Linked DNA regions of Homo sapiens. The protein of the gene in region 1 purifies or fractionates together with the protein of each later gene. This does not show direct contact. Each region holds a gene or a part of one and is shown on either strand. Other genes may lie near its edges.

Region 1 (10,730 bases):
TATTTGAATGTTTTACAACTTAAAAAATGCTGTATATCAATTACAAAAGTGAACAGGAAACACACCAATTCATTTGGTGTGCAAAAATATTTTTCTACTACACAGAATTTAAGGGCTTCACAGAATTTTTTTTCCCCAAATTTACATTGTAAGAAGAAATGCTAAACAAATGACTTTCTCAAGGAGATGTTAGTATGCTTCCACTTTTGTCAAATTTTTTACCCTTTGATAATGCTGCGACCTGTTTGAGTAGTTCTCTGTTTTTGGCCTGTGGGAGACAAAAACATTCAAGATTAAAAATGTTTGAAATATTATTAAGTCATGCTGAAGAATACTACTTATTTAATACTGTTTTCATTTATATAAATGTTTCACTAAAGCACTAACATTAAATGAAAGAGTTGATACCTTTACATTCATCTCTTTAAGGATGAACATGCAGAAGGAAAATTCTAGATTGGCTCATCAGCCCCCTTTGTATATGTCATTATTAATATAATTGTGTCCAAAGATGCACAATTGGTTACAAAAAAGGAAACAAAGTGAATCCACTTAAAAGAAGGTCCAAATTTTAATAGGGAAAAGGTGTTTGGCCCTTCATCTTAAAAACATGAAAACTATGAAAATAAGTTGTAATTTACAATTAATAAAATCAAAGAATGAATCAAGATTTGGGAGGAGTATTTCCTGGCAAGCTGTATAAGGTCTTTTTTCTATGTTTACTCTCTTGTAGAACAAGCATAAGAGGTCATTTTTGCAAAAACAACTCAGAATTTGTTACTTTGCCAAATGCACCCAATGATATTCAATTTTTTTTAAAGCACCCATCAGAACCACTCATTATCTTGTTGTTCCTTTAGTTACCAGTCATCTGACACTGATTTTAGTGTGGTTTGAGCAGTTCCACATCATCATTTCCTATCTCATGAAAGCTTGAATTTTTACAAAGATTCAAAATTTCATTTCATCATCTGACTTGAATTTCATTATTAAATGTCCATCCATCACTAGTTTAGTGAAGAGGAATGTGTAAGTACAGTGAATATTTTCACATTTTGACTGCCTTTGTCACCTTATTCAGTCTCTTAAATATGAAAACTTAGATAGTAAGGATCCCTATATATACAAATACATTAATGATCAAGCATTTTTGTAGTTTGAGCCAAAATGGGGAAAGTGATGAAAATAGAGCACTGCCCTAAAATTAACACATTTTAAAAAGATATCCTCTGACTTATGTTTCAACACCATTTTCCTTCACAGGTTCCAGGAATTTTTATTATATAGACAGACTTTTTTAATCTCAGTACTTCATATTTTATTCTAATTTTAGCTTTTTACGGGCAGATAACACTCTGCCTTCTCTGTATGCCATCTTAAAGTGGTTTCATGAAATAACCTTTTTCAAACTTTATTCTTCCATTCCCCCACCCTTCTTCTCCAATCACTCTTGCTAATTAACACCCATGACCTCTAAAATGCAAATATTCTCAGTACTATCTTATATGTGCAAATCAAATAATTTTTTATGTTCAGATGCATGATCAATAGAACTTTCCTATTCAGTGGTTATTAATAACTAAGGTGGTAACGAAAAACTTCAATTTCAAATTCAGTATCAATTTCAAATTTTGAGTCTGCAAATTTGACTCAAAAAGATCTCCACTAGATCTGTTAAGTTATATTTATCTAAAAATGTTTATACTGATACAAAATAGTTAAAATGTGAATCTCCAAGTTCTTATCTCAATTATCAAGAAATAAAGTGTTTATAATTTTCATATTTTAAGTACAAAATACAATAATTTGAACATTAGGTCTTCAAAGCAATTTTTCCATTTAATGCTTTGGTAGCTAATTTCCAATTTGCTTTTAATATATTTATATCACTAATAAAGATATTTCTTAATAAATTACATAAGACAAAAGTCTTTATGGTAAATAAATAACACAATTGTTAAGTACAAGTCCAAATTATTCTAATTTGAATACTTTAAAAATGAATTTTATGCCATATTTCAATATATGTACATTTAAATTGTTTTATCCTAAAATTACTTCATTTTGCAGCCAGCCAAAAAAAAAAAAAAAAATCAATGAAATTCTTTACAGACTCTTAAGAAAGCTAAGTTTTAAAGTTTAGACATGTTGGTGCAAAGGAAAGAATATCAGGATTAAGAATTACATAGATCCTGCTTTAAATCCTGGCTTACTTACCAGCTACATAACCTGGAGCATATTTTCTCATTTGTAACACAAACTCCACCATCCGAACTCAAAATGAGTTGAAGGAACTTATCAAATATATAAAACACTTAGCCTAACACAGTTCCTGGTACACAGAAGGCACTCAAATGTTAGGTCCCTTTTCCTTTTAACCACTTACCTAATTAAGTGAATAAGAGTTTTAACTTGATATTCTTAGTATTTTCAATATTTGGGGTATTTTGGGGTGACATTTTGAACAATTTTTTCATGTGATGTTCAGTGTTTTGTCGTAGGTTTGGCAGTTAAAAATATTTTACTAGCTATTAGAGCAAGATCCATCTTGTGTCACAGGATTCAATTCCTTATTACATAAAGATAAAAAAAAAATTACCGGTTTCCTCACCTCAGTAAAGAATCCTACTAGTATCACTTGGTTGCTAAAGGAAGTGAGGTAAAAAGATGGCACTCAGCTATGACAGATTGTCTCTAGCCATAACACAAAAAAATCAGGGAAGTGGCCTGATAGGAAGGATGAAATAGAAAACCTGAGGAACCTGAAGTGGTGGGAACTAGTGTAGGACAGGGAAAAGTATAGATAAACTGGAGTGAGAAGACAGAGATTTCTACGTCACCGCTTACTGTGTGATCACAGTTTCCTCTGTAAAATGGGCATATCACATAACCCAGTTTTTGCAACAAGTAAGACAGCATATGTAAAATCATGTCAAAATGTCCTATTTAAATATTGGTTACTTTTATACTACATGAAACTTCAATTACCAAGAGGAGGTAGGCCTAAGATATCTATCAGGCTAAGTCAAAGATGACCCCATGTATTTGCAACTATGATTTTAAAAAAGAAAAACCAACACACAAACTGCTCTTTTGAACAGTGGGGAGCACTAAGTTAAAACATATCTGAGCACCTATTGCAGTTATTCTGTTATCTCATTCTGGATTTACTTCAGAGCTTTGGTTACATTACATTAAATCAAAGATCACCAGGTGGAAGATTTTGTTCCAGGTAATCATTCAGCATTAATAACTGAGTAAGAAAAACAGGAATAACATAAAATTAAAAATAATACTTGCTGGTGGATAAAAACATTGACTAATATATAAGAATCTGATATATGATACGGGCAATCTCTCAGAACAGAGGGCTGATGGGCATTTCCATAAATCACCACCTAGTCAACAAATTATTTGAATGCCTACTATGTCTCAGGTTCTACATGAGGTTCCTTTTTCAACAGTCTTTGTAATAGTATGATAGGGATTAAGACCAGATAATCTGTACCTCGAATTTGAGCAAGTTCCTAAATCCTACTAATTTAAGCTACTTGCAAAGAAGTATGAATAATACAAAACCAAAAGAAAGAAATAGCAAATATCCTTTGGTGTTACAATGTGAAAAAAAAAAAACAAAATGAAACAGGACAGTATTAACTCCTTCCTTCTGAAGCTGTACTCTCCCAAGTCTGACGTCTGTGTGCTGCCATCTTCCATTAACATTTAAAACTTCTTTCACCTTAAAAATTTTGTTACTAAAGACTAATTTTACAAATGTGAGACTGTATAAATCAAAGAGAACATGTAATTAATTTAGTGTGGTCTGATTTCTAAATGTATGAAACCTAGAAGAGAAGCAGCTTAATATGGTAGCATTCTGTATCCATGTTGGATGTTCACCATCTCTGCATGCCAGACATCAGATTATTACTGTGGTGACTCTTGACTTTACCATTCAGTTGTTCTGTATACTTAAACTGCTACTTTGCAGTACTCTGAGGTTCAGGTGGATCACTACCTGTTAGCATTTAGCAGAACCCTATTTGGCACTTTGCGAACCACTGTACACAGGTTAAGTAAACTCTCTTGCTTTGCACACATTTTTGCCACTCCAGGTCCTTAAGAATTGGTTTTATACACCCATCTCCTTTCCCATTATCTGGAAGGAAATATTAATGTGAGGAATGATTGCTACTGAAGACCTGCTTTTCACCTTAGTTTCATTAATCTGATTTTTAATTTTTTGCTATAAGCCCAATAATTAATTGAACACACTCCAATGATACCCTCCTCCAAAAACTCCATTTGAAGTTTAGGCAAAAGTTTTCAAGATTAAAGTACTGAATCCCCCTTTCAAGTAATTTCAAACAATAACTTCTAATGAGATCAAGATTAAAAATGATTATAAAGTCAAAATCAAAACTGAAATGCACCAACTATGCACAAAATAGGGCTACCAATAACAATCTAAGTCAATGAATGCTATTACTCAAGTTTAGCCCTTCTTGCCTATCATTTTACGTAAATGATGGTAGTTACCTGAAGTTGTTCCACAGTTTCTTTGTGGGCTTTTTCCATACTGTTCATTTTTGTTCTCAAATTTGACTCTTGGTACTGAAAGTCTGCCTTTAGTTCAGTTAACTGAGAGATTAAAGAAAAAATATATGTATATATTTGCACACATACACACACACACCATTTTAAATAACTTTCACAATAAACTCACATTTCATTACAAAAGTAGAAGATGTTAACTGCAGTTTCCTGAATTGTACAAGCTATCTAAAGTTTGTTTGGTGAAATGATGAAGTCTATCTGCTTCACAATAGTATAATTTTAATGTTAATACCTGACCATCAGTAAAACTTCTCAGTTTTCTTTTTTTCCTAAACATGGCTCGACTGGAAATAGAGTTTGGCAACTGGTATGCCAACGAAAAAAGCTTAACGGCTAATAACTGGGAAAATGCCTCATTTAAAAATGTACTTCAATAATAGTAAAAACAATATAAACATTTAAACTAGCTTATGCGTAAAATAATCTTTCAATGCTTAAAGAAAGAAATTTCACACTGGGTAATATAAAAAGGAATGGTCTTTTCAGCCAAAAGCTACACTGTTTTCATTTTTTAATTTATGTCCAGGATTATGTACACAATACCACCTAACACTTGAGGTAAAAATAGAGAACAAAGCACAGAAATACAACTAACACAGAATGAGAAAGGAAAGAAGGTTACTATAAAATTTGGGCTAAATTAGACAAATACAAGAAAAAAATCAGTGCTTTGAGGAAGAAGGCTACATGATAATTTTTCATAAATGACATACCTAACAGTATAATATCTCATGACTTCAAACTAAATAAGTTATTATGTAATTTCACTATTAGAACCATGCAGAGGGAACTCCAGGTTATTTTTTAATGTTTTTCATTATGCCAGCTTTAAAGGTTTACACATTCTCCTTTGTAATTACCCAGTATCTAATAAACTGAAAGACATACAACAGCAAAAATAGAGAAAATCATGGAGTCTTATAGTCTTATTAAAAAAAAAAACCCTTGCTTTTGTCAAATTCAAAGTATAACTAAGTTCTCTCTCTCTAACTTTCTCTAATCACAAAAGATTTTCTGTTCTGAAATGCCAACATACACCAGATCAGCTAAGACAATTACTCTATTCACTACACTGTGAGTTGCCTCCTCACTATGAACTTCTGGAAAATAAGAATTATGTCTTATTTATTCATCTTTGTATCCTCATGATCTAGTTCAGTGTCTGGCTCTAGAAATCATTAAATAACTTTGTGAAATCAATTCAGTAAAATAACTTCATCATCTTAGATTTATAAGAAAAAGTTGCAAATGTATAGTTATTTTAGGTTTACCATTAGGATTTTCCTTACAACAATGCTAATTTCAATCCCCATTAGTGTTGTGATTTTTTTAAAGAGGAACACTAACAAAAGCAGAAAACTTCAATTAACTGCACAATACAAAGATAGTACCTCTTATGCTAGAGAGGAAAGAAAAATCTAGCAGTCAATATTCTATAACTGATTACTACTTGGTTTTGAAATCATTGCTATTTTGCAGTAAAGTTGGCATTTTATTCAACTTTTCTCAAGGCTAATGCAGATATATCTGGCCTGTCTCTAAAACTTTGTACACAGGACAAATTTCCATAAAGGCTCATTAATTTAAAAAATGCTGTCAATCAAAAAGAACCATAAGACAAAGACACCCGTAACTATCCTATTTTATATGTCACTCCTAATTTTCATATACTAAATTTGCTTAAAGTAAGCTACAAATGTATTAAAATAAATTAAGCCCACTAACCATCAAGGTGTGGCAAAATGTATCAAAAATTACTGAATGCCAGAAGTAAAAGCCAACTCAGCACAGACTTAGAGATGGATATAAGTCATATATGTATTCATATTAAGGCCTTATTCTTTTAAAAGAAATGATTTTAGTGTTCTCCTACTGCATAATACATTTGATACAGGTCAAACTACATTGTCTGGGACCATAAAACAAGTACAAAAGATGATCAAACAGTAATAGCCCCTATGGGCACTTATACATACCAGGAGCTATAATAAATACTTTGCATTTTCATTAATCATCAAAACCATCACTTCAGATAATATTAATGCTCTCATTTAAATGAGAAAACTGAGGTCCAAAGAAGCACACATTCTGCTTTAGGTCACACAGAAAATGTTAGAACTAGGATTTGAATCTAAGTATGGCTAAATTACTTCAAAACTGTTTCCTGTTCCATGCCTGTCCACTATTGTGCCATCCTGATTTCATAGCACAAGACCTTAAATCCTTCTGTAATTCTGTTAATATTCCTCTTTTCACTAAATGAACAACACATTTTAATATTCCTCTTCATTTAACTGATGAAGTCCCAATAAGTACACTTACTTCCTACACAATGAGCTTTTAGACATCTATTGCTAATTACTATTACTGACTACTACAGGAAATTCCCATACCATTACTTTTCAGCAGTATTTTGATCTGGATTGATACAAATATATGACTGGATTGATACAAATATATGAATGTTATATCAAAGACTGTTCAAACTACATTCTTAAATCAAAAAAGTTTATGAAATATTCCATTTACATCTCATTTTTAATTAGGTATTAGATCTATTTTTAAATTACATGCTTACTGAAAATTAAAGTTTGGAAATTACTATCCTAATTAAGCCTCAGTTAATTCTTAGAACTAAAAATCTGAAAGACCATTTTTACCCATCTTCATTAGATGGCTTCAGGGGCTTTTGTAATTTGTCTTATAAAAATCACGCACAACAAACATTACCAAATTATTAAAGGAAGTCTAATAAAATTTGCGATTATCAAGCAACAGTCAACACATAACTCTTACCAGGCTTCAATGAACCATGTTCTTACCTTTTTATCTTTTTCTAAAATGGTCTGGTCTCTCTGCTGTAAGAGACGCTTAAGTGACATCACTTCTTCTTTCAATTGACTTATAAGGACAAAATTGTCTGTTCCCCCACTATCTGCTGACTGATTTATAGAGCTACTAAAAAGAAAAAAGTAAAACACAGTTAAATGAAGTAGAAGGAAAATTAGCAGGTGTTCAAATTGCATAAATTAGACAATTCCACAAACATCCTTAAGGCTAATGCAAAAAAATATGTACCTGACAGAAATGGATGCAACTGGCAAATTACCTTACTAATGGCACACATTACATACACCTGCAGAAATATAATTCAGTATTAGCTTTAAGGGGGTCAATACTTCTAGTGTAAAGCAATAGGCAGCCAATTTGTACAGTAACATCAGCAAACTTTTGGCTAATGAACTAAAACAAAGTAACGCTCATAATATTTTTAATCTAAAAACATTTTCTAAGCAGGTCAATTTAAAATATCACAATTAGATTTGTGTTTCACTGAAGAATAAAGATAAAAATAATGTTCTCCATTCAAATTTGTTTCTTCAAAACCCAAATTTATTTCCCAAATAGAACAACATAGTTCAGTGCCACTTTCTTATTGCCAAAATTAAGCTAAAAATTTTAAACTAATTTATGTTTATTCTTCTAGGTGACTCAAGTCAATGTAGAAAATACATGTTTCTATTTTTTTATCTAGTAATAACTGGCATTCAACCATAACTATTCAACTAAGTTGAATTTTCATAACACTAAAAGAATTCATTTTTACCTATCTCCATTAGATGGCTTAGATTCCAATTTGGGCTTTTTCTTTGGAGTTTCATTCTGAATTGTTGCAGAGGATTTATGGCTGAAACCAAACATTAATAAGAATAGTTAGAGTAAAAAGGACAGAGAAACCAAATGATAAGTTATTCATCTTCCCCTAAAATATTACTGAAAATACTGATTTTGGTAAGACTTAAGTAACAAAGTTGAAGGGATATCACATTTATAAATATACATTTCAAAATACTTCAGAAAATACAGCAATGTATTTACCTCTGTTTCCACAGTCCCTGCTCTTCTTCTGGACTTAGATTGCTGATTCTGAAAAATACACAAATGACATCTAATAATGACATTTATTTATTTAATACATCTAAATTTAACATTCTTTCTCAATGGATACAAATTTTATGTTTATAATATTTTCTTCAGAGAAAGGTATATTTAAGTTTTCAGACTAAGCTAATACATATTGAATAAATCACATTCTGATGAAATAAATTTTAATAAAATGACTGCTAACCATCTCAAGTTCTTCAAGAATTCTTTATAATCAGGATCTCCACAGTTCAATTTAATATCATACAAAGGGTGGGTTACACAAGTAGTTTTCGTGCTTGTGTCTAGGTATCACTGTACTTTGGCTGCCCTTACTATTTCAGACACAAAATTTGTATCTTTAAAGTTAAGGCTTTCCTAATAATCTGAAGTAGAGATTCTTCTTTTGGAGTAACTCAAGTTGCTCAGAATAGTATTTCAATTTAAATGGGGAAATATATTGATTTCTTTGATTCTTTCCTAGTTTTCTTAAGAATCCTCTCCAAAGTCCATAGAGCTCTCTTTAGTTAGTATTCTGGAGAAGTTACGCTGAAACTATTGAGAAATTTCATAGTAACAAATTATTTTACTTTTACTCATAATTAATACTGTAATACTCCTTTTCTATTTTACCCTAATACTAATAATCACTTTATAATTCATCATGAATCCTTCATTTTTTTCCTCCTAAACTTGCATATCAGTCAATGCTTCACTAACCCTAGCTTATTCACTCAGCATGTAGAGAGCATCTCCTATGAACCAGATGCCACGTATTTATACGATTTAGAAGATGTTAGAATACCTGAGCTGTGACCTTATGCAAATTACTTAACATCCCCAGCCTTAGTTCCCTCATATGTAATACATACCTTATACTGATATGAGCATTAAATGAGTTATATATGTAAAATCACTTAGTACAGTGCTAGCATATACAAAATAGACATATATATATATACATGTTTACTTGTGTCTAAAATTTACTATTGGTTCAGCTGTAGAAGTTTTTTAAGCAAAAGAAAAAAACAAACCTTAAGACTCAGCTGTAAACAAGTACCAAGTTGGGAAAAAAATGTTAATAGCAATAATTCCATCAAGTGAGTTATTCTTACTTGTGAATGAATGGAAATCCTATTGAGGAATGCAGTTGTCCCTTTTTTTTTTTTCCCACAAATTTCATTATAAGCCTAACAAGCCATACATGAACTAACAGCACTAACCATATCTCAAAGTTAAGAATAATCACATTAATATCACTGACAGAAACACTTGGAATTCCCATCTTATCTTTCTGAGGGTTGTCCATTCCTAGATTCAGACCCACCTTAGTGCCACCTGGCAACCACATCCCCTACCCCTGCCGATCACTATCTATCACAATATGAATGCTCCTCATTTTCATTCTGATCTATTGAACTTAAGATAGGACCCTACAAAGTAACTGTTCATCAAATGGTCAACAGCCATCAAATAGAAAATAGTGTTTGTATTTCATAAGTAACCAGAAGTAAAAAAATTGAAGACTTTCATTTTCAATACTGTTCTCTTTCCCTTTATTTTTGAAACCTGTCATTCTTTCAAAAAATTAAGTTGCTGTCACATACTTTAGTCTTCACAAACATAATCTGATTGTGTCCTTTTACATCATGCTAAGACAAATTTATCTGTAAAGAATAGGGAAAGGAGACATTTTGGGAGTCTTAGAAGTAGGTCTGACATATGCTATTATGGTATATAGTCATTTTGTCATATTTTTTCTTAAAGCAAGAAGCAAAAACAAGGTAGACTTATATTATTTTGCTTCTTGAAATACTCTGATATAAAGATCACAAGGTTTCTTCAAAACAGCCAGAAGAGAAGACACTGCATTGTAGTCTACCACTGCCACATTTAGAAAACACTACAACATGGTAGAATTAAACATCACTAACCTCAACGTAACCTCATAATCTAATAGGTGATTGGATACAGTTTACAACAAATCTTACTAATTAGACAGAACTACATTACATTCTAAAAATACTGCATGTGTTCCAAAATGAGGTGGGCATCAGTTGTTTGTAAATTCTGTTTTAAATAACTATCTGAAACTTTAAAGACTCACAGAAAAATTTAAGAACAAACAATAAATTATTCTGAAAATGGGCATGCCATATGTCCGTTTTTTCCATTTTAATTTGTGTTTG
Region 2 (10,730 bases), about 26 Mb from region 1:
CTGTGGACTGGGTCTCTGGCCAAACCAATCCTTCAAAGTGCTGTCAGCGGCATCTGCAGAGCCACAGCATCCGCACAGGCCTCCCTGTCCCCAGCTGGAGAAACAGCCGCAGGCCCAAGGCTAGCATCCACCGCCAGCTCACAACAGTGGATGCCACCCACACCTTGACTCGCCTCGGCATCTTCATCGAACAAGTCCATATCACCCCACAAGTGTTGTCCCTCAGCCCCCTGCGTGCCCTGGCAACCCGGAGAGGTGAAATGATTCACCTCCTATTATTCAGAGTGAGGGGAAGGACCTGCTACCACCCAGTCCTCAAGTTCTGGGTTGTTATAAATAGAGGGGAGGAAGTCAATGGCTTGGATGAAGGGACTGATTACTCATGCGTTCACTTGCGGATGAAGTAGGCACTGAGGTCTGCTAGGTGCCAGGCACCCTGTAGGCTCTTTAATCATTTCTTACCTGTTAGCTCACACAGAGCACTTCTGGGGGAATTAGGGTTGCAAGTCTAAGCCAATGATGAGAAGTTTCCAATAAAACCACCGAAATCTGTATAGTTGTTGAGGCTTATGCAGGAGGTGGGGCCACTGAATAGAATGGGTCACAGGTACCCTCTCTACACCTCTTTCAAATTGGTCAAACCCAAAAATCAGGATGTCCTAGACTCCCACAGCTTGCAGTCCTCACAACTCCTACACAGCCTCCTCCCAAAACGCAGTACAAGGAGGACAAATAAGGCAGTCTGATTCATTTCTCTGCTTCACTAGCAGTGAAATACAAAGAAGCGTTTTTAAAATTCTACAATATAGCATAAAACAAATATCCTGTCCTTCAACTGTGAGGACAGAAGGAGCCAGGCACTCCCCTGAACTATATGACGAAACTGAGGAAGTCAAAGACAGCCTCCTGAGGTCCAAGGAGAACAAGGTTTTCCCAAACCATCCCTTTGCATGGCTTAAATGCTAGGTATGCAAATTGCCTCTCACTGTCCCCTTTCAAGACTGTGTTCTCACTATATTTAGCAGGCTTATTATCCTCCCTGGACTGCTCACCTCAGAAGGAAAGCTGAAATCTAGTTTACGAGCACTCCCGGAAGAGAGGCCCAGTTCATGGAATCTCAGCTCACTCACTTGACTTTTGAGTTTGCTCAAGATGCTTCACCTACAGAACTCCTGAACTACTTTGCTGATGAATTCAGGCTGCCCATTTTCCAGATGAGGAAACAAGGAGAGAATAACCTTGGACTAGAACTTAGCATTCACTACTATCTCCTTCACTGGAGCCATGACCATTCTACAGAGAAAAATACACATATGCCCTTTCCTTTCTCTTTGCTAAAAGGATGATAATCATAATCTCACTGCCTTATAATATCAGTTTAGAGAGCTTATTTCCCTTTCTGATTGATCCTTGGCAGCGAGAACCTATCTACTGTTTACCTCTGTGTGCCACTCTGTCCTGGTGAACCCACTTTGTCAATGAGCGAATATGCTTTGCTGTTTTGGGAGGGGCTCCCTACTAAAAAGAAACTGTGGAAAACTCTCTTTCTCATGAACATAATATCACCCCTTAATTTACCAGTTGGCAAAAAAAAAATGAGGAAAATATCAAAGCCAGAAAGAATCTCAGAGAACAATTAAATGAAATGCCACCTTTTGCAAATGAGATTAAGCTCAGAGACAGACTTTAAGGCAATGTGGTGGTTCTCACTGCCTGAAAACACACGGCCATGTGCAGGAAACACAGTCAGAGTGAGCACAGCAAATACCCCCTCAAGAGAGCGCACCCCAAGCCAGGACTTGCCCTACGTGAGGATTTCCCTGTGAGCCCAAAGTCATTTCTCACAGCTCTTCAGGATGGTTCCAGACCACAGACTTGCCCTCTGCAGCTTCACCATGAATAGCCCCTCACCGCGTTCAGTCAATAAGTATTTATCAAGCACTAACTATATACCAGATGCTATACTAGGTGTTAGTAAAATGGCAGACTCACATCTGCAATCCCAGCACTTTGGGAGGCCAAGGCGGGTGGATCCCTCGAGCCCAGGAGTTCAAGACCAGCCTAGACAACATGACACAACCCCATCTCTACAAAAAATACAAAAACTAGACGGGCCTGGTGGCGCATGCCTGTAGTCCCAGCTACTAGGGAGTCTGAGGTGGGAGGATCGCTTGTGCCCAAGAGATCGAGGCCGCAGTGAGCTATGATCATGCCACTGCACTCCAGCCTGGGCGACAGAGCTAGACCCTGTCTCAAAAAATAAAAAAGAAAGAAAAATAACACGATTCTAGGTCCTGCCTCATAGCTCTGAATATAGTAGGGAAAACACGCATTAAACAACTAATTCCAGGAATGATGATTGAATTACTGTTGTTACACAGGGGACCTAACCTCATATCGGGGAGAGAGTGAGGCTTCACTGAAGACCTGACCTATGTACTGACACCATAAGGATGAAGAGGGAGGAGTTAGGGAAAAGGGGATGGAAAAGTGAGGCAGAGAACATGGACCCAGACCTAAGGCAGGGCAGAGCAGAAGCCAGGAAGGAGAAGGGCCTTGAGACTTGCTGTGTTTGAAAAATTACAAGATCAGTGTGGCCAGGAGAAAGTGGAATTATGTGAGATCTCCAGGTTTTAAAGGTGGAGAAAAAAAAGTACTGCAAAAAAGCTGTGGATCCCTGCTTGAGATCAAAAATTTCACTAGATTACTTAGGATAGACAAATATGCCTGCATAAATCTGAAACAAGTTAGCGGGTTGGTTTGAGTCTTGTTCTCTCCGGTTTACCACCTGTCTAACTACGGGTAAGTCACTTCACCTTTTCAAGCTTCAAGATACTCATCTCTGAAATGAGATGAATAATCATTCTTATCTTCCCCATTTTTCAAGATTGTCGTAAGAATCAAATGAGATGCAGCCTGTGGATGTCATTTCATAAACTTCGACGCACTAAAACATCATTTCTTTTCATTACCAAATGCCTCTCAACCAAAATAAGCCATTCCTCACAAAACGGCTCCACATAGAACATTAACATTAGCGAAAGGCCTAAGAGCAAGCGATGACATATATAAAATGACAAAACACTGCACGCCTGAGTCAAGCTAGGAGCTCCTGCCTAACTGAAACTCACAGGCAGTTTTCTCCTTGATTCCCAGCCGAACTCTGAAACCTGGGGAAACCCAACCTCCAGGTCCCAAGGCTCCAGCCCAGAGGCGACACTGTTTTCTAGCACTTTCCTAACTCCAAGAGAAAAGCATGTAAACATTACATCCCAGAACCGAAGGCCTCTATACCCTACCAGTGGCTTCTTCACCACCCTGTGAGGGCAGCTATAAACAAGACTAATGGAGAAGGGGGAGTGCATTAAACCCATGGCTTGGCCAATTTCTCAGTAATAGGAGATGCCCTCTGGGCTACCAGGAGGTGAGGCAACAGGCGGACGTCCCACAGGCTCTGGTCTGCTAGCTAAACTCCCCCAGCTCTGTTTAGATAGCTCTTTCACCTCTAACCAACTTTCCACATCCACTGCTTCATTTTTCTCCTCTAGAGATTGAAGGCCTTGTTTCTGCAGTAACCGTCCCCCTCCAGCCCACCCATCACCACCACCACCAACAGCACACCTTGCCAAATTCAGCAAACCATGTGCACAGTTAACTGCAGATTTTTTTTTTTTTTAACCACTCAGTGAGAGAATTTCAGGGAACTAAATGTACACAGATGAGGTAAGTCATAGGTACAGAGTCTCAGGTTACTCAATTAATTGAGCACAGGTTCAAAGCATGCAAGTCCTTCCAAACACTTCTGGTTTCACAGGACACTCACCCCACTCTGCTCTGTCCCCACTCCCTGCCATCTCGGGCTCCTTGGCTGAGATCCTTGGGCAGATCAGCACTGGCCTTTCTCCCCAGGTCCCTGGGGCAGAGACAGGTGGAACTGTCTCGCATGTGTCTCCTGGGCTAATAGAGAAATGGGGTCCTTAACTATCTGGGACCTTAACCCTATAGCTTGCTATCTCACAGGTACCTATTAAAGTCTTCCCAGCCACAGTCCCCAAGCTAGCCTTTCTCCACAGGTGGCTCTTAACCCAGGGCCCTCCAGGCTCAACCAGATCATACCAGCCTTTCCAATGCCTCTGGGCACAGAGTTAAAAATTTCACCAAGGCCAGGCACGGTGGCTCACACCTGTAATCCCAGCATTTTGGGAGGCCAAGGTGGGTGAATCACGAGGTCAGGAGTTCGAGACCAGCCTGGCCAATATGGTGAAACCTCATCTCTACTAAAAATACAAAACAATTAGCCGGGCGTGGTGGTGCGCACCTGTAATCCCAGCTACTCAGGAGGCTGAGGCACAAGAATCGCCTGAACCTGGGAGGCAGAGGTTGCAGTGAGCCGAGATAGAGCCACTGCACTCCAGCTGGGTGACGGAGCGAGACTCTGTCTCAAAAAAAAAAAAAAAAAAAATTCATCATGACACTACACCTCAGCTCACCAGCCCCCCAAAGTCAGAAGGAAATCATCTCAGTATCCCTAAAATATTAAAATCCCAACTGAGGGCCCACCCATTGATTCACCCCCACATTTATTTCATGTAAGATTCACCCTAGTCATCTTCCCCCAGGGTTTCTACTCAACAGGCTAGTCTCTCTTCTAAATAATAGAGGTCACATCAGTTACCTTCTTCATTTAAAAAACCCCCAGAAAGGGGGGGAGATAATAAACAACATATTGGTCTCTACACGGCACAAATGCATTTGATATAGGTACATCTTTTTATTGTCCTTGTCAGCCACTCAGATTTGGGATATAATCACATCAGCCTGCCTTTCTGAGAATTCGTAGCTGTGTTTTGAATCTAATTCAGGGGACTGGAGATAAATCATTGTGAAGGGTCCTGATTTTCCAAGCTAAGAGCCTGCAGCAGCAGCAACAGCAATGGCAAGCTAAGTTAAAAGGTCAGCCAAGAAGTGGGGGAGGTTTATATGCAAAGATGAAGACCACACGCCTGTAGTGTTTGTCTTCATGCCAATCTGGAGGGTTGAAGGGAAGAAAGACAGACCCAGCTACATCAAGGTAAGTCAACAAAAGCACAGGAAGCAAAGGGCAGGGCAGGGAGATGGCCCCACTGTTAAGGCACTGTTTACATCTTTCATTGCTAAACAGAACGTGCAGGGTCTGCGCTCCACCTTAGCAAAGCCCGATACAAGTGCAGTGTTTGCGCAAGGCCAGATGAGAAGTGAAGCCACAGAGATCTGGTTCACCCTATGAATAGCCAGCCTTCATTGACTAAGTGACTGACAGAAGGAGGCAACTGTGCAGAGGCATGCCCTAGAGCCAACCACCGGACCCACTTGGCCCTCCACGGTCCCCCTGGTGAGTTCCTACCTAGGAAAGAAGGACCACTGTCTCCTGACACTCAACTTGGCAGTCAGCAGCCACCAATACCTAGGGTCTAGACCCAAGCCCTCCACTCTTGCTTTTATTGCCCTGTTTGCCCTGCCTACACGAGCAGGTCTTTGCAGGAACTTCTCTCTTGGGTGAAGCAGAGGTTGCCTACAGGTGGGAAGAAGAGGCCTTGTCAAAGCTTGTGCTGTCTACACAGTAGCCAAGAGCCACATGTGGCTATTTCAACTTTAAATTCGTTAAAATTAAATGAAAGACACTTCAAGTCTTCAGTCACACTTGCCACATTTCACCTGCTCAATGGCCAGATCTGACTAGTGAACATGGTGAACAGCACAGATAGAAAACATCACTATCACAGAAAGATCTATTGAACAGTGCCACATCGGAGGGTCCAGGACGCGGCCAGGAAGATAGGATCTTCCAGCTCTTGGCTAGTAGCAGTGCTATGGGCATGGATGTTACCATTATAATAAACAGTTACCCAGTGGATAACAGAACTTTGTAATTATTTTTTAACACACTAGTGTACTTGTGATCGTTACGCAGTCCTATTTTTACGGAACCCACCATAAAATGCACAAAGCATTGGTCATGTTACAGTTAAAAAAAACTGAGCATCTCACAATAACACAGGAGGAAACTCAAATCTTGATCTTGCTCAGCAGCCCACCCTGCCTTTTCTGGATTTTAGCTTCATCAGCCACTTCAGCGCTTGAAGGCCGCCCATGCCACTTCTTCGAAGGCCCAGGGTTCACAGGTCGATAAGCCAATAAATTAGGTCGAAATTAACTGTGGCTCATTTTAAATTGAGGGAAATTGATTTTTGCATGTACGTGGCTAGACTGACTATACCATCTGCCAACAGTGTCTGGCATACCTAGAAAATGCATAGGAAAGTCCCATGCTCATCAACAGAGAATGCCTCACCCCCACAGCCCAGACCACCTCTGGAGAAATACTAATCCCTGAATATTCAAACCAAAAATGCAGTGAGCTCTCTTTTACTTTCCATCACATTTATTTAAATCCAAATAAATGGAGGAAAGGTCAATGTAATGCCCCCAGGTTTTAATACATTTTTATTCATTTAAAACATTTAATACATTTTTATCAACTCTCAATTATCTGCATCTGAATTATTGTCGCAAATTCTAAACTCCAAACTGCCTTTCCCTGAATACATTTAGGCCAGCCATTTCCCTTATCAATAGATCAAAGAATGCAAACTCATTTTAATATTCACCTGAGCAAAACTTAATTAGGAAGGTAAACGAATGCTTTAAAAAAAAGACTACATAAATACATAGCAAAAGCAAATCGATTATTTTTTGGATTACCTGCTCTCCAGATTATGATAAGACTGCCCCCTGTGTCCCTCCATTACAGTGGGTGGAACAAAGCTGGCTCCAACTATCTCTGCCCTGGGATTCAACAATGACACTATGAAGATGGCTGTCATCTCTAAGGAGGAACAGACCAAAATCTGACAATGAAATGTTCCTACAACATCCACCTTTTGCCTTGGGATGTTCGTTGCTATAAGGATCTGCCTCGTGGATCCCAAGTCTCAAAGCAATTTATTAAGCATACCATTAACTTCATTTTACAGAACATAGAGAAAACATTCTCAGACAGAACACAAATTAAAACCAAGATCCATGATCACTGTATTCTGATGCTCTTACAAGCCTGGACTCCACATCTCAAGGGAACTGTGCTCCAGCATCTCTCCAAGTTACAAGGGGGCTACATCAGGCTGCTCTCCTGCTCTGCAAGAACGCTTGAAGTGAAAGGAGAATGAGGTTTTTCTCACCTGGCCTGGAAAAAAAGTAATCATCTATTTTATATTATGATACTTCAGGTAATTTTCTAACAATTCACCATCATAATATCACAAATATAATTTAGAGCTAAAGTTAATCTCATTATTCAGGATACCAGGGACTACAGGTAACAGGAAGCCATTTATAATTCAAGTTTCCAATTTTATGTACATACATGTTGTACATGCATAGACTGTTTCTGGAAAGATATACAAAAATATTGATAACAACGGATGCCACCCGGAAAGGAGCTCTGGGTGAACAGGGGGCATGAGAGGGAAGGAAATTTGTTACCACATACGCTTTTGTACAAATTTTGTTTTGTAAACGTGCATTACCTAATCAGACAGCTTTTTATTTCATCCCTCCAAATTCCGCCTCCTTACTCTTCTCACCAACCCCTTTCCTCCATTCCTTCCCCCTCGCAAAGCCTCCACCTTCTGTGCCTCTAACCATGCAAGCTATTTATGAACTAAAAGCGGCCAGAGACTGGGCACAGAGCTCCCTAAGAAAAGACGCCAAGTGGAACCAGGAAGAGCTTTTCAAGGTCACGTCCCTTATTGAGCCAACCCAAGGCCCCGAGCAACTCTTCAGCTACATAAAAGCCAACCTGAAGCAGCACATTCTTTGCCTTCTCATCTTATTCTGGAAGCACACAGGTCAAACATCCTAACTTCAGAATCAACCAGCCAATTCTTTCCCAAGCAAGTGTATCATGGAAGAATCTACTCAAAAGAGATCTAAAGCTGAACGGTATTCCACCCCCAAAGGAGGCCTTTTGTCCCAGGGCCTTGTGCTGTAATAGACACTTTATTTTCAGTCTCAAATCAGGACACTGAATACTCCCTGGCTTCTAAAATGTAGGAATTATGAAGAGAGAGCTTGTTGGAAGGAAAATAAACCTGTAAATCCTGTTAGGCTTTGTGCTTTATTCCAAAGGATTTTTCCCCAAAACAATACCATTAGCATAAACCAGAATGATAGCCCTAAAAGGGAGGATTCTGTAAAATAGAATCCAAGCTCTTCATTGAAAATAACTCCCATATAGCACAGGCAAATCAGGGCTCCACTATCTGTAGGCCATGCCGCTTGCATCCTCACTACCGAATGAGCCATCTCATTTTCACTATCCATGTGTGGGTTCACTGTATTCCTCCTTACAAATACATTTTATATAATGTGAATGTGCTTCCTACCCTCTGGGCCTCTCTTCTTCCAGGTGTGTGGCTGGTCCACAAATACTCATTAAGGGCCTCCCAAGTGCCAGGGAAACACAAGAGAACTTGATCCATGCCCTCAAGGAGCAAACAGGAAGATGAGACAGTTGAGCAATTCTAACACAAGGCAGTAAGTGCTGCCTCCAAGCTCAGAAGAAACTCTTCCCACCATAGCCTGAGAATACCAAGAGGTATTCCTTGGATGTTAAAGAATGGAATAAGAGCTTCCCAGGCAAGGACAAGAGTTGGGGAAGATCATTTCAGGCAGAGGAAAAAGCAGGTATGATGGCGCAGACAGACAGAGCTTATGAGAAATCAGGAGGAAATTCAGTGTGGCATGAATTAGGGAATCCCTCTTCTTGGACCTGGCCTTTAAGAAGGGGCTCAACTTCTAAACTTTGCCTTTTTTTTTTTTTTTTTTAGATGGAGTCTCACTCTGTCCCCCAGGCTGGAGTGCAATGGCGCGATCTCGGCTCACTGCAACCTCCGCCTCCGGGGTTCAAGCGATTCTCCTGCCTCAGCCTCTTGAGTAGCCAGGACTACAGGCATCTGCCACCACGCCCAGTGAATTTTTGTAGTTTTAGTAGAGACGGGGTTTCCCCATGTGGACCAGGCTGGTTTCGAACTCCTGACCTCAAGTGATCCACCCGCCTCGGCCTCCCACAGTGCTGGGATTACAGGCGTGAGCCTTGAACATGGGCAGAAAAGTCCTGATATCTGCCAGCAAATTATTTTCACCCCTACAATCACATTTCAGTATCATAAATGTGCCTTTAAGTAATCATGGCAGAAGCCGGTCTCCCCACCTTAGAGAAACTGAGGAGGAAAATGGTCAAAATAACCAAGCCTAGTTTACCCAAGACATTAGCGAAGCAGAGGAAAAAGGACCGACATTGACTCCAGCACAGGGCTCTTTCTCAGATGCAAGTATTCCCCTAGAAAGCCTTCCCTTCTCTTCTCCCTGAAGGTGGTGGCCTTAACATCGCCTCTAGGCCTGCTTCCTTCAGGCAGCTTCTGCTTCCAGCCCTAACCTGTGCTGCCAGTGTCCTCTTAACCTCACTCAAAGGTCAGAGGGCAAGAAGCTGGACAGTGTCTGAGCCCACCACCCCTTATCTCTCCATCTCCCATGCGCTGCATGTCACACAGCCCGTTATCACACCATTGTAGAGTTGTGGCTGGTTTCTTGTGACCATGTTTCCTGGTTCCCATCCTGGTACATTGACATGCCTGTATCTGCATCTGCTTGCTCTCCTCCTTAAATTGTAAATTTCCTAAAAGCAGGAATGAAATTTTATTCCCCAGCTCACTGCACCTCCATAGAACCACACTCAAGTCAAGCAGTACTGTTGGAAAACATCACCATTCCTTAGGTTTAAACGTTGAAGGGGAAAGTCGTGATTACAAAGTGGAACTTGGCTTAAGGCTAAAAGTAGGACCATATAATTTATTGTCACATCTTGACACTTTTGAGAGTGAAGGGGGTGCTATTCATAACCACCAGAGACAACTTAGAAACCAGGTCTGCCCCAGGGAAACACAGAGGCAATGGTCATCCTTGCTAGAAAGATCATTCCAAATAGATGTTAGTTACTCCAGAGTTCCAAGAGGGGCACCTCAAACCCCTTCAGTCACCAACCTGTGCTTGCATTCTGAAGGGTCTGCACCAGATAGAACTTGTGGCAGAAAGCCCAGTACAGGGAAGTTCTTCCTTTTATCTGACTCAAATCCTTACAGATTCAAATTAATTCCACTTCTTATTAACCTCAGAGCAAGAGGCAACAATGGCATAGGAAGGCAGCCACAGAGAAGAAAAATCTCACCCTTGTACCCTCACCCTCCGGTTAGGAATTCCTCATTATGAGTTTGACTGCTAGTTCTCCATCCTTCAGCTGAACCAAACTCAATCTGGCTGGCCCAGAAACTCAAAAGCCCAGGGTTTGGGAGTCACTCCCAGTGAGAACAGAGTTCATGTCCAACCTGCCCCACATCCCCTGGAGCTTTTCATAAACCAAACCCAAGAAAGAAATGGCACATGTACACATATTTTTGAAACCAGAAAACTTTTTCCTCAACCTAAACTATAGCTTCAGGGGACCTGAGCACTGGGAGGGATTGTCTCCCACCAGCCCCCAACTCCCAGTTCCCAGAATGCTGATTCAAGAGCACAGCAGAGCTGGGCTGACTGCGGAGGCCCAATGAAGAAGTGGGCCACTCCTCCTCCTTCTCCCACCCTCCATCAGCCCCATGCTGGTGTCGCTGTTAAGAGCAAGGACCTTGATGACTTCT
Region 3 (10,546 bases), on another chromosome or scaffold:
AATGTTCAGGGTGCTTCTTGCACGTCTCATTTTTTACATTGCTCAAGAAATAAAGCATAGAAAAATGTCTTCTTCTAATCTTGTACATACACTTTTGGAGAAGAATTCCTTAAAGATTCGTAGTGCTTTTGAGATATTTCAATTCATATTAAAAATGGGTTGATAATACCTACACAAGGCTTACAAGTTTTCATAAACCTGGCTATTTAATTTCATTATCCCAGCTGCTAATAAGATTAAGGCAAATTGTTTCATATATATTAAAAATGGCTGCAGTGACATTTTAACCACTTAATAACCACTTTTGTGTGTGTGTGTCGGTGGGGGGGGGGCAGGGGGAAGAGCGGTCAGCATTAACACAAGTCCCAAAAATGCTGCCAGCAGAAGCTAAAACTAAACAAATACTACAGGAAAACAAAACAAAAAATAAGGAAAGAAAATAAGTCCTAAAACTCTTTCCTTCCAGAATGAAAGTATTTTTGTTTTCTTGTATAGTACTATCTTATTTTCCTTAGGTTAAATACAAAGTAAGCTTTTTTCTGTTACAGCAAAATAGTCCAATTAGACATTAGCTTCAGATGTGTTTTCCTTCAGGCTGTTTCAAAGCTCACTCTCAAGGAAATAAACTATTTTTAAGTGTATATTACTTGGGCTTTAGAAATCTGCAGAAGGCCACTAGATTTTAGTACAACATAATCTTACAGTATATACTGTGAACCTTTCATGGTAATCAAACTGTAGACATCAGAGCAGGTAAGGTTTTCCCTATCTGTCTTGCAATAATCAAGTAAGAATTATCTCTAAACAATTTGAAACATGTCTTCATTTTCCATAAGTACACTGATTTTTTTTTCCTTTCTTTTTTGAGATGCAGTCTTGCTCTTGTCACCCAGGCTGGAGTGCAGTGGCATGATCTTGGCTAACTGCAACCTCCACCTCCCGGATTCAAGCGATTCTCCTGCCTCAGCCTTCTAGGTAGCTGGGATTACAGGCGCCCACTACCATGCCCGACTAATTTTTGTACTTTTAGTAGAGATGGGGTTTCGCCATGTTGGCCAGGCCGGTCTCGAACTCCTGACCTCAGGTGATCTGCCTGCCTCAGCCTCCCAAAGTGCTGGGATTACAGGTACACTGATTTTAATCCAGAAATGTAAACATCCCCAGATTTGGGTTTGAAGATTCAATATCTATAAGGGACTTGACAAATGGTTTCCTTCTTTGACAACAGATGCCTCATTGCAATGGAAGTGATCAGTGATTGGCTTCTGTATATACGCTTAAGTTATTTAGACCTGCAATTACAAAAGTAGCACTGCTCTCAGGTTAGAGTTGGAAAGCAAGAGGCAAGCCCTGAATTAAAGATATATTGCTTCTTCACTGGGCTGTAGAGCTAGAGCACAAGATTCAGAATCAGTAACAGATGAGTAATGGCAGAGTCCTCCCGAGATGCCAGGACTGAGGCACCTAGAAGGAGACAAGGAAAAGGGGGAATAAAAGGTGTGGATTTTGGAAGAAGTTCAGGGTTACTGGTGTTAAAAGCTCAGAAAACCCTCTCCTGTTGCCAAAACACATATTACTTAAAAAGCAGGCTACCACTTTCATTAATAAATAGCAGTTGGTGTAAATGCAACCCATTCAAATCAGGCTTAGTAAAAATCAATTCTCATAAAATAGTAAGTAGGTACACAATACTCTGCATTGATATAACTGGCCAGTGACAGAACCAGATACTTTAAAAGCTTCAGAAGCATTTAGACAGACAATTTCTCACCCATGAGGCAATTATTGCATTTATTATTCACCATAAAAGTGATTAATATCATTGTGCTCATTAGTCTTTCCAAGGGGAAGATAACTTTTATCCCACAGTTGTTATTAAAACATTATCTATATTGGACGGAGTATATAGAAACACAATAGCAACACACCAAGTCAGTCACGACTAACAGTTTATGCACACAGGTGCAAGATAGTTTCTGCACCACATTTTGTCTTTGTAATAAGCATATTCTTTCCTCAGTGGCTCACTAAAACAAGTTATATTTTGTCTTCACCACTAATTTACTCAGAATTTATTAGTGAACCAAAAGTTTCACTGTTCTTATTGAACTAAATCTGAGATATCATATTGCTGTTTTGGCCTGCAACAATTTCAGTTACTCTTTTGAAAAGCACCTTAGGTTTTTTCTTCCAAATTGCTCGTAATTGAAAACTTTAAAACTTCTTTTTTTCATAATGAAGTCATAATTCTTCCTTTATTACTATCCTACAGCCAGGATGAGTTTTCGTAGCTTTAATGTACTAAGTTGTATTATAACACATACATTGCTATTAATAATCTTGGTAAGCTAATCAACTTTTTGCTACAATATAATCCAAAAAAGTATGTGATTGATAACCACATTCATTACTGTGCTATGGAAAAAAAAACAAGATCTTTTATTTTGTGAAGTTTTCTAAGAAAATCATTTGCATATCTAGAATTTTATTTTCAAACTAAGTGGCATGAAGAACTGCTTCAAACTGCCCCCAAAGGCATTTTAAACTACACCAGAATGTGGAGCTACAATAAAACAATTTTAGCAACAATGCAGGAAATACTTGGTACTATGCCTGTGTCAGGTTTTATAATAAAGTGGCATGTCCTGTGGAATATCTTTTTGTGTTTTGTTTTGGTTTTATTTTTAAATCACTCACCAAGTATTTGCTTTTTTATACTATCTTAAAAACTGGGAACAAATACTCCCTCACCCTGGGTCTCTGTGTGCATAAAGAGGCAAAGGCACGTACTGTTTCTCTACATACGGGGTCAACATTCCACTAATAATAGCAAATCTCCCTTTATTATAGATATTAGAACTCTATTGCCACTTGGGCAAGTCAATCAAGAGGGCTTAGACGACAGCTGGGCAAATTTTAATGTGTTTATTTCTACAATTTCTTTTTATTAAAAGTCTTGTGAAAAAACGGAATCCTATAAATAGTAAAAAGGGAGAAACAGTGCTCCATGGCCTGAAGCAAATGGTGTCAATACATGTGTAAACAAGGTAAGACTGCTCGGACTATTAAAAGCACAAAAATAAAACTAGTCACAGATAGCAAGACTTCATTTCAGGAGTTGGGAGTGGGAAGTAGGAAGTGTTTAATCCCAAGTTTTGGTGCCCTAAAATGGCTAGTAGTATAGTTAATTCTCAATTCTCTAGCTGTGATCTTCTGTGCCTTCTATCTCTTCCTAAGGAAAACCACATTAGATGAACCCAGGGCTCAGTCATTTTAGGGAGAGGGTTGAGACAACACTGCCAGCAACACAGCTGGAATCACCCGAGTCGGGAACATTAAAGTTCCTGAGAGAATATGAAACAACTATCAACATAATATTTCTCCCTACTTTTACAGTAAAATATTGGAAGTAAATAAATATAGGGAATGCAACAACTGGCTAGGAGTGTTTTACATTCAGTTGTTTGGAAGCATAACACATTCAGCTCCTTTGAATCTTCCCGTTAGAAAATACAGAATTACTCTATCACCTTTTAAGGTACAGTAAGACAAGAAAAAAAGTCATGTGAGGATAATACAGTCTTTGCATTAAAGGTGAATCTGCAACATGAAATCTGCTCGACTCACAGATCTGGAGATTCATAGGGAAGATAAGCTCTAAGTGACCATGTCACAGAGATATGCAGGTGCTGAATTTCTTAGTAGATGCTGCCTGAGTAAACCAGATGTGGCTACTGGGCAAAGGGAGGAAAGAAAATAAATCTTGTCCTCTACATGCATAGTTATGTTGTGAGAATGATCCCCAAACTGAAAAAATCATTTAGTTTTCACAAGGAATTAATTAGGCAGGCCAGCTCACTTTAAACAGTAGCTCATCTCCTTAAACCTAGTTTTTACCAATGACTTGAACTAAAAACAATTCAAACCACTGGGTCATGCACAGTCAATAAGTTAAAAAACTATAAGAAAAAAAGGCATAAGGGCATGAGTGGAAAATAAACCCTATTTAACTAAGGGGTAGGGAGTGGGAGCAAGAAAACCACTTAGTATTTTGTATAGAATGGGGAAGAGAGGAAGATATTTTCATTATGGCTTTAGGATGGAAGCGCTTCAGATAGTCCCCTGCCCCATTCCTCCAAATCAAAGCCCCAGTGGCAGTGACAGTACCAGGAAACAATCTAGCCTCCCCGCCCACCCCGCCCCCATAACCGTGCCCGGCGGCTGCTGTCCAGTCGCCCGTGCTTCCCAAGGCTGCCGAGGAAGCGGCTGCTGCTCATTCCAGTAGATCCAACGCCCAGGCTAGGGGGTAGAGACACAGCCCTTGTGGTAGGGTAGGGCACGTCTTCGGCCCACCGCTCCTGGGCGCCAGTGGCTTCAAGGGAAGACCTTGGGACCTGGATAGGGTTCTCCCTCGCACCAGAAGTCATCGGCCTGTGGGGTCTCCAGGAGCCACACCTCTCGAGGCAGGTCACAGGCCGAGCTGGAGGCCTCCTTGGGCCTGACCGGCTCCAGCACCCGGTAATAGTGGCAGTCCCGGCCATCGTCCGGGTCGTAGGGCGGGGCCAGGATGTCCAGGAAGGCGGCAGGCCCTTCCACGGCGTCGATCTGGTGCAGGTTGTCCCGGTGCGGTGTGAGGATGCAGGGGCCGCTGGCCTCGGTGTACTCGGCCCGCGAACGCAGCACGCCCGGCCGCACGGCTTCTCGCTCCCGGGGCTGCAGCGGCGGCTCGAACTGCTGCTCGGGCGGCAAGGCCCGCGGCCGTTGCCCGCCGCCCGCGTCTAGCTTGTCCATGCAGCTGATGCGCACGGTGCCGTACAGCACCTTGAGCATGCCGTGCATGCCCGGGTGGTCGTGCAGCGGGATGGACGTGCCGCTCTTGAGCAGGAACACGCCCAGGCTGAAGCCGTCCGTCTCGTAGATGTGCATGTAGGTGACTGGCGGCAGGTTGGGCGGCAGCGGCTGCAGTGTGGCCTTGCGCGGGGCGATGTTCAAGTCCTCGGCGCGGAGCTGGGTCAGGAGGCTCTTCAGCTTGCTCAGGTTCTCGGGGAAGCCCGGCTGCATCGGCGCCTCCGGGCCAGAAGCCGCGTCGCGATCGGAAGCGCCGCGGCCGCCCCCGCTGCCCCGGAAGGTGAGGCAAGCCTGGCGGGCGATCCGTTGGATCAAGGAGGCCATGTTGTCTCGGGGCATGGTCGGCTGCTCCTCTGCGTGCCGGGACCGGCCCCCTCCTTTCCTCCGCCCCTTGCGGTCCCCGGCGGCCGCCACGGCTGCCCCCAGCCCGGGTCGAGGCGGGAGGCCCCGCAACCACCGGCCCGTCGGGCGCGCGGCACCGCCGCCAACCTCAGCAGCCACGCGCCCGCAACTGCCCGGCGCGCTCGCCTTGAGCCCCCTCTGAGCGCGCACGCGCACGCCCCACACCCCGCACTCACGCTCCGGGAGCAGATAGCGGCCGCGCAGACGGTGCCAGGCTTTGCCTTACGCCCGGCGCTCCATTCATGCGGCCCGCACCTACGACGGTGGCCGGGCGCCCGGGGACCCTGCGGAGCATGCCGGGACTTGTAGTCCGGCCTTCCGCTTGAGCTCTGAGATAGTTCAGTTTGTTGATTGGAAAATAGAGGAACTATTACACATGTTGGGCATAAAGCGATCTTTTTCAGGATGCAGAGGTGTTTTTCTTGTTTTAGAAAAGATGAATCGGGGTGGAAGATTAGTAGCCACTTGACTACAACTCCCGGCACTCCCCGCAGGGTGGAGTGACGCACTTCCGTCAGCTGGCCCCCGGAGTAGTGGAGGCTCTTGGCCTTCATAAGGAAAGGGGCAGGGAGGGTCGTTAACCTTCTGGCGCCGCGCTGGGGCCTGGTTAGCCATGCAGGGTCGCCTTCCTTTGGCCTTGCCCCTGGGAAGGAGGCTGTTGAGTCAGCCTTAGCTCCTCGTAGCGGCCTAGGCAGCACTGTCTCCCACGGGAATTGCAGGAGGGCGCTTTTATAATTTTGTGTTTCCTAGGAGGGGAGGGGGTCCAGGCCGTCCTCTGTGATCATCAAGGTTACTCGGCCCAGCTGGGCCCAGCTGGGCCCAGCTGTTGTTTGCATCAGGACCTGATGACGCTGCTCTTCTGGTTACAGAGCAGTATAGCTTTTTGCTGGAGAGACTTGAGAGGCCATTTACAGTGGTCGTGGATTCTGAACATACTAGTGGTTATCAAATCTTGGTTTGCCTGAGAAGGGGGAGCGGGCTTTTATAAATGCAGATTCCCTGTCGTCACCCAGAGATGGAGTTACTAGATGGTTCTGAGGCATCCTAGGAGAAATAGTGGTGTGCAACAGTCAGTTCAGTCAGTAATTGTGAAATTGTTTCACTACACAGAGGCATCCTTCTCCTTGGCGTGAACTAACTTTTGGCATAAGTAAATGACTAGAAAAGCAAGACATTAGATACTATGACTTTAAACTTAACCCTGAGTTTAAAGTCTTTTTGGATTCCAAAGCTGAACATGGGTTTCTTGTACATTTTGTAATTGGAGTGGTTCAGTGAATCCTCTCCAGTTAAAATAGGCATACTTTTTAAAGTGGATTACATAACCTGGCTAATGAGTACTCACAATATGCCAGGCACTGTGTTAAGTGCATTATATAATGAATGTTATACTATTTAATCCTTGCAGCAACTCTTAAGAGGCAGGCACTATTATTATTCCCAGATTGCAGATGAGGGAATAAGTTGTAGGATAGTGAATACTAAGTACCCAGCAAAGCATGAGCAGCAGAGCAGAAATAAGTACAGTCTTACCAAAAACAGCAGCTTGAATTGGTGTAAAAGCACCAAACGAGAGTCAGGATATTGTTGTTCCAGCCTACTGTGTGTACTTACAAGCTGTGTGTCGTTAGGCAAATCCTACCCTTTTAGGGCCTCAATTTATTCATTTGTAGAATGCCGGTGTTAAGGGAACAAAAGTTCTGAACCCTACTCATCAGAACCCCCTGGAGAGCTTAAAAAATAAAGATCTTGGGGTCACACCTCAGAGATTTTGATTCAGAAGAACTGGAGTGAAGCCTATTTTTTTGTGTGTGGTTTTTTTTTGTTTGTTTGTTTGTTTGTTTTGAGGGGTAACAAGGTTTATCGTGAAGAGCGAAATAACAAAGCTTCCACAGCTTGGAAGGGGACCACAGCGGGTTGCCCCTATGATTTATATTTAAGATGCTTCCTCAAGCAATTATTATTATTATTTTTTTTTTTGAGACGGAGTCTGGGTCTGTTGCCCAGGCGGGAGTGCACTGGTGCGATCTCGGCTCACTGCAAGCTCCGCCTCCCGGGTTCACGCCATTCTCCTGCCTCAGCCTCCGGAGTAGCTGGGACTACAGATGCCCGCCATCACACCCGCCTAATTTTTTTTTCTGTATATTTAGTAGAGACGGGGTTTCACCATGTTAGCCAGAATGGTCTCGATCTCCTGAGCTCGTGATCCGCCCCCCTCGGCCTCCCAAAGTGCTGGGATTACAGGCGTGAGCCACGGCGCTCGTCCAAGCGATTCTTGATCATTAGCTCAGTTTGAGAACCACTGGTAGAGCTGTAAATAGTGAACCAGCTTTCATTAGTTAAGAGGGTGGTTATTTGCTTTAGGAAAGGATTGTTAAGACTGATTCATTTTTAGAGGTTGCCATGCCATTGTTACGTTATTTAAATGTACTTTCAAAGCTGATAAATAAATTTCATACAGTCTTTTTTCTAAAGTGAGAAGTATTTGAGAGTAAAATTCTTCCCCTTCCTTTATTTACAAATATGGACTTTTATTTATTGGTTTTACTTCTATTAGGGTATAATTAGTGGTAAGTATAGACTCCATGGAACACAGACTATATTAACATGCAGATCTCTTGCACTTAATGGTTGTCCACACTTACTTAACTGAAGCTCAAAATTTTCATCTATAAAATGGGATAATATACCTGTGTAAATCACTGATGACACTATGTAGAACATAGTAGCTGCCCCATGACAGTAGCTATTATAGGTTTAAAATGGCTATAAGTTGTACTTAAAGACCAATGAATTTAAATAATACTAAGCAAGTATTGAAATGGAATTTGACTTGTTTTGAGAATCAGCTTCAGGGTAGAGATAAAAAAGATTATTGCTTAAACCATTTACCTGGTAATTTGCTAGTCATCCTTTGGCCTGAGTTCAAAGTTTCCGAAGACTGCCTGTATCAGAATCACTTGGGAGTGTCTGTCAAAAGTGCAGATTCCCAGATCACGTCAAAACCTACTGCATCTGAATCTTTTGCACATTAAAAATTTTAAGAACCAGGCAGGCATGGTATGGTGGCTCATGCCTGTAATCCCAACACTTTGGGAGGCCAAGACAGGAAGATCGCTTGAGGACAGGTGTTCAAGGCCAGCCTAGGCAACATAGCAAGACCCCCATCTTTACAAAAAAAAAAATTAAAAAATTAGTTGAGCATGGTGATACACGCCTGTAGTGTATTCTGGAGGCTGAGGCAGGAGGATTGATTGAGCTGATGAGTTCAAGGCTGCAGTTAGCTATGATTGCACCCCTTCACCCAGGCCTAGGCAACAGAGTGAGACTGTCTCTCAAAAAAAAGTTTGTAAGAACTGCTGAGTGTCTACAGGGCATGTGGTACTTTTTTAGGTCACAAAGAGTCTACCTCCATAATTCCTTTTGATGTTGCCCTTCATTCAGAGCTGCACTAATGGGTGATATTGACTCTATGGGCTTTTGCCCTTAAGAAGCAGTTTACTTGCCCTTCTGCCCCACTGCCAGTAGCATAGGCTGAGTGGGTTTCTATTAGCATTAACATCCTTCTTTTTTATCCTTGTTGATTCTGTAATTCTTCAGTGTTGTTATAAGCAAAATGGAGACCAAAAGAAATTCTGAAAGGGAACAGACAGGAAGAGAAGTGATAGTGAACAAATACTAGGAAAATGCATGGCAGAGACAAGGTTTAGGGAAAGTTTAGGATAGACAAAATCAATCGTTTGATAAACAGTCAGTATCCACTGAGTACCAGGCATTGTTCTAGGCTTTGGGGATTCAGCAAGGAACAAAGGAAGACAAAGTCCAAATTCCCAAGGAGTTTACCTGCGAGTAAATGTGTATGTTTGAGAGGATGGAAGCGTTATACAGCGCGAGTAAATGAGCAACATACTTTTCAGACAGAGATAACTTAGGAAGACAGTAAAACACAGTCATAGACTGGTGTGATATTTATTTGTGTGTGGTATGTTACTTTAAATTGGGTTATCAGGAGCGACCAGATGTTAACATTTAAGCTATTTTTGAATGTTAAGGAGTTAGCCATGGAAAAATCTGGGGTCAGAGCATTCCAAGACCAGGAAACATCCTTAAGATTATTAACAGGGTATTGACTATCACAACTTTGACCACGTAGAAAGGAACTTGGTATAATTAGGAGAGAAGATGAAGACCTGCGGGGTTAAGACTGCGTAGTGAGCTTCCAGGTTCCTGGAGGGAGATGCAGGTGCAGAGGCCAGTAGGGATTGTGTTATGTAGGCCTTATAGGCTGTGGGAGGGGGTAATAGGGAGTTGTAGGCTGTGGTAGGGAGTTGGATTTTATTCTAAATGCAGTGAGAAGTCTTTGGAGAGCTTTGGGCAGAGGAGTGATTTGATCTGTTTTACATTTTTAAGAGGTTGGTGGTGGGGCGAGTGTAACAGCAGGGAAACCTGAATGAGGGGCAGTAATCCAGAAGAAAGACAAGAGAACTAGTGTAAGGATAAGAATCTGTTTGAAGGTACAGCTGACAGGGCTTGCTGATGAGCTATTGCTTCAGCAATCTATTTCAAAGTGTATTTTCTCCATGTTTTTTCTTTCACAGGTTGACAGCTTTGTGGTGATAGGTAAGACTGATACAGCTTAAATCCCACCTCCTACCCACATCTATTAAATTTAGGAATGAGGGAAGCACACAGAACCATGAGTAAAGCTGAGATTTTTTTTTCTCCTCCTTTACAGTTGCTTAATTAACCAGGAAACAAGGAGAGCTGGAAGAGCCCCCAGCCTATATGGATTTAACTCCACCTGTTCATTTCTATGATCTCTTCATTCTTTGGGAACTAGGCTTGTGCTTTTGCCTTTCGTTCTTCTTCCCCTACCTCTTGACTCTATGAGGACTGATTTTCTTTAATTCACAAGATACATTACCTTCTGGCTTTTACTCAAATCTTCTTCAGAATTCATTTGCCCATTTCTTTTGGTCACACTGAGATCCAGTGGAAAGAGTACAAAAGATTATAATGGTATTCTCACATGCTCAGACTTCCTAGTCTGCAGTTTTGTTTTGTTTTTGTTTTTAAAGTGGGAACTAAGGTTTATTTTTTCCCGAGTAGTCATTTCCACCTTATTCCGATATCTGCCTTTTATATTAGTATAGAACATGGTAAATAAATAGATTAAAATGTCCCCATTTTCAGACTAATTCATAATTATATTTGAAGTATTTTGGATTCATATTGTGGCTTTCCTTTCAGTTTTTAAAAAACATGAGTGTATATTTCTCATTCCTTATTATGAATG

The links.
Region 2: the proteins of FAM76B (region 1) and SORL1 purify together in Homo sapiens (affinity purification with mass spectrometry; 2 studies listed by BioGRID and IntAct, with this or other methods). This does not show direct contact.
Region 3: the proteins of FAM76B (region 1) and ADO purify together in Homo sapiens (affinity purification with mass spectrometry; 3 studies listed by BioGRID and IntAct, with this or other methods). This does not show direct contact.

Annotation. Positions count from the first base shown.
Region 1 is NC_000011.10:95,771,383-95,782,112, forward strand, and holds part of FAM76B (protein FAM76B), read right to left. Parts: intron 8,567-10,730; coding exon of another isoform or gene 8,545-8,566; coding exon 8,497-8,544; intron 8,306-8,496; coding exon 8,225-8,305; intron 7,754-8,224; coding exon of another isoform or gene 7,744-7,753; exon of another isoform or gene 7,696-7,743; intron 7,576-7,695; coding exon 7,440-7,575; intron 4,642-7,439; coding exon 4,540-4,641; intron 269-4,539; coding exon 179-268; 3' UTR 1-178. UniProt on the Homo sapiens protein: Negatively regulates the NF-kappa-B-mediated inflammatory pathway by preventing the translocation of HNRNPA2B1 from the nucleus to the cytoplasm.
Region 2 is NC_000011.10:121,454,127-121,464,856, reverse strand, and holds part of SORL1 (sortilin-related receptor preproprotein), read right to left. Parts: intron 1-10,730. UniProt on the Homo sapiens protein: Sorting receptor that directs several proteins to their correct location within the cell. Along with AP-1 complex, involved Golgi apparatus - endosome sorting.
Region 3 is NC_000010.11:62,799,701-62,810,246, reverse strand, and holds ADO (2-aminoethanethiol dioxygenase), read right to left. Parts: upstream 5,528-10,546; 5' UTR 5,188-5,527; coding exon 4,375-5,187; 3' UTR 1,768-4,374; downstream 1-1,767. UniProt on the Homo sapiens protein: Plays a vital role in regulating thiol metabolism and preserving oxygen homeostasis by oxidizing the sulfur of cysteamine and N-terminal cysteine-containing proteins to their corresponding sulfinic acids using O2 as a cosubstrate.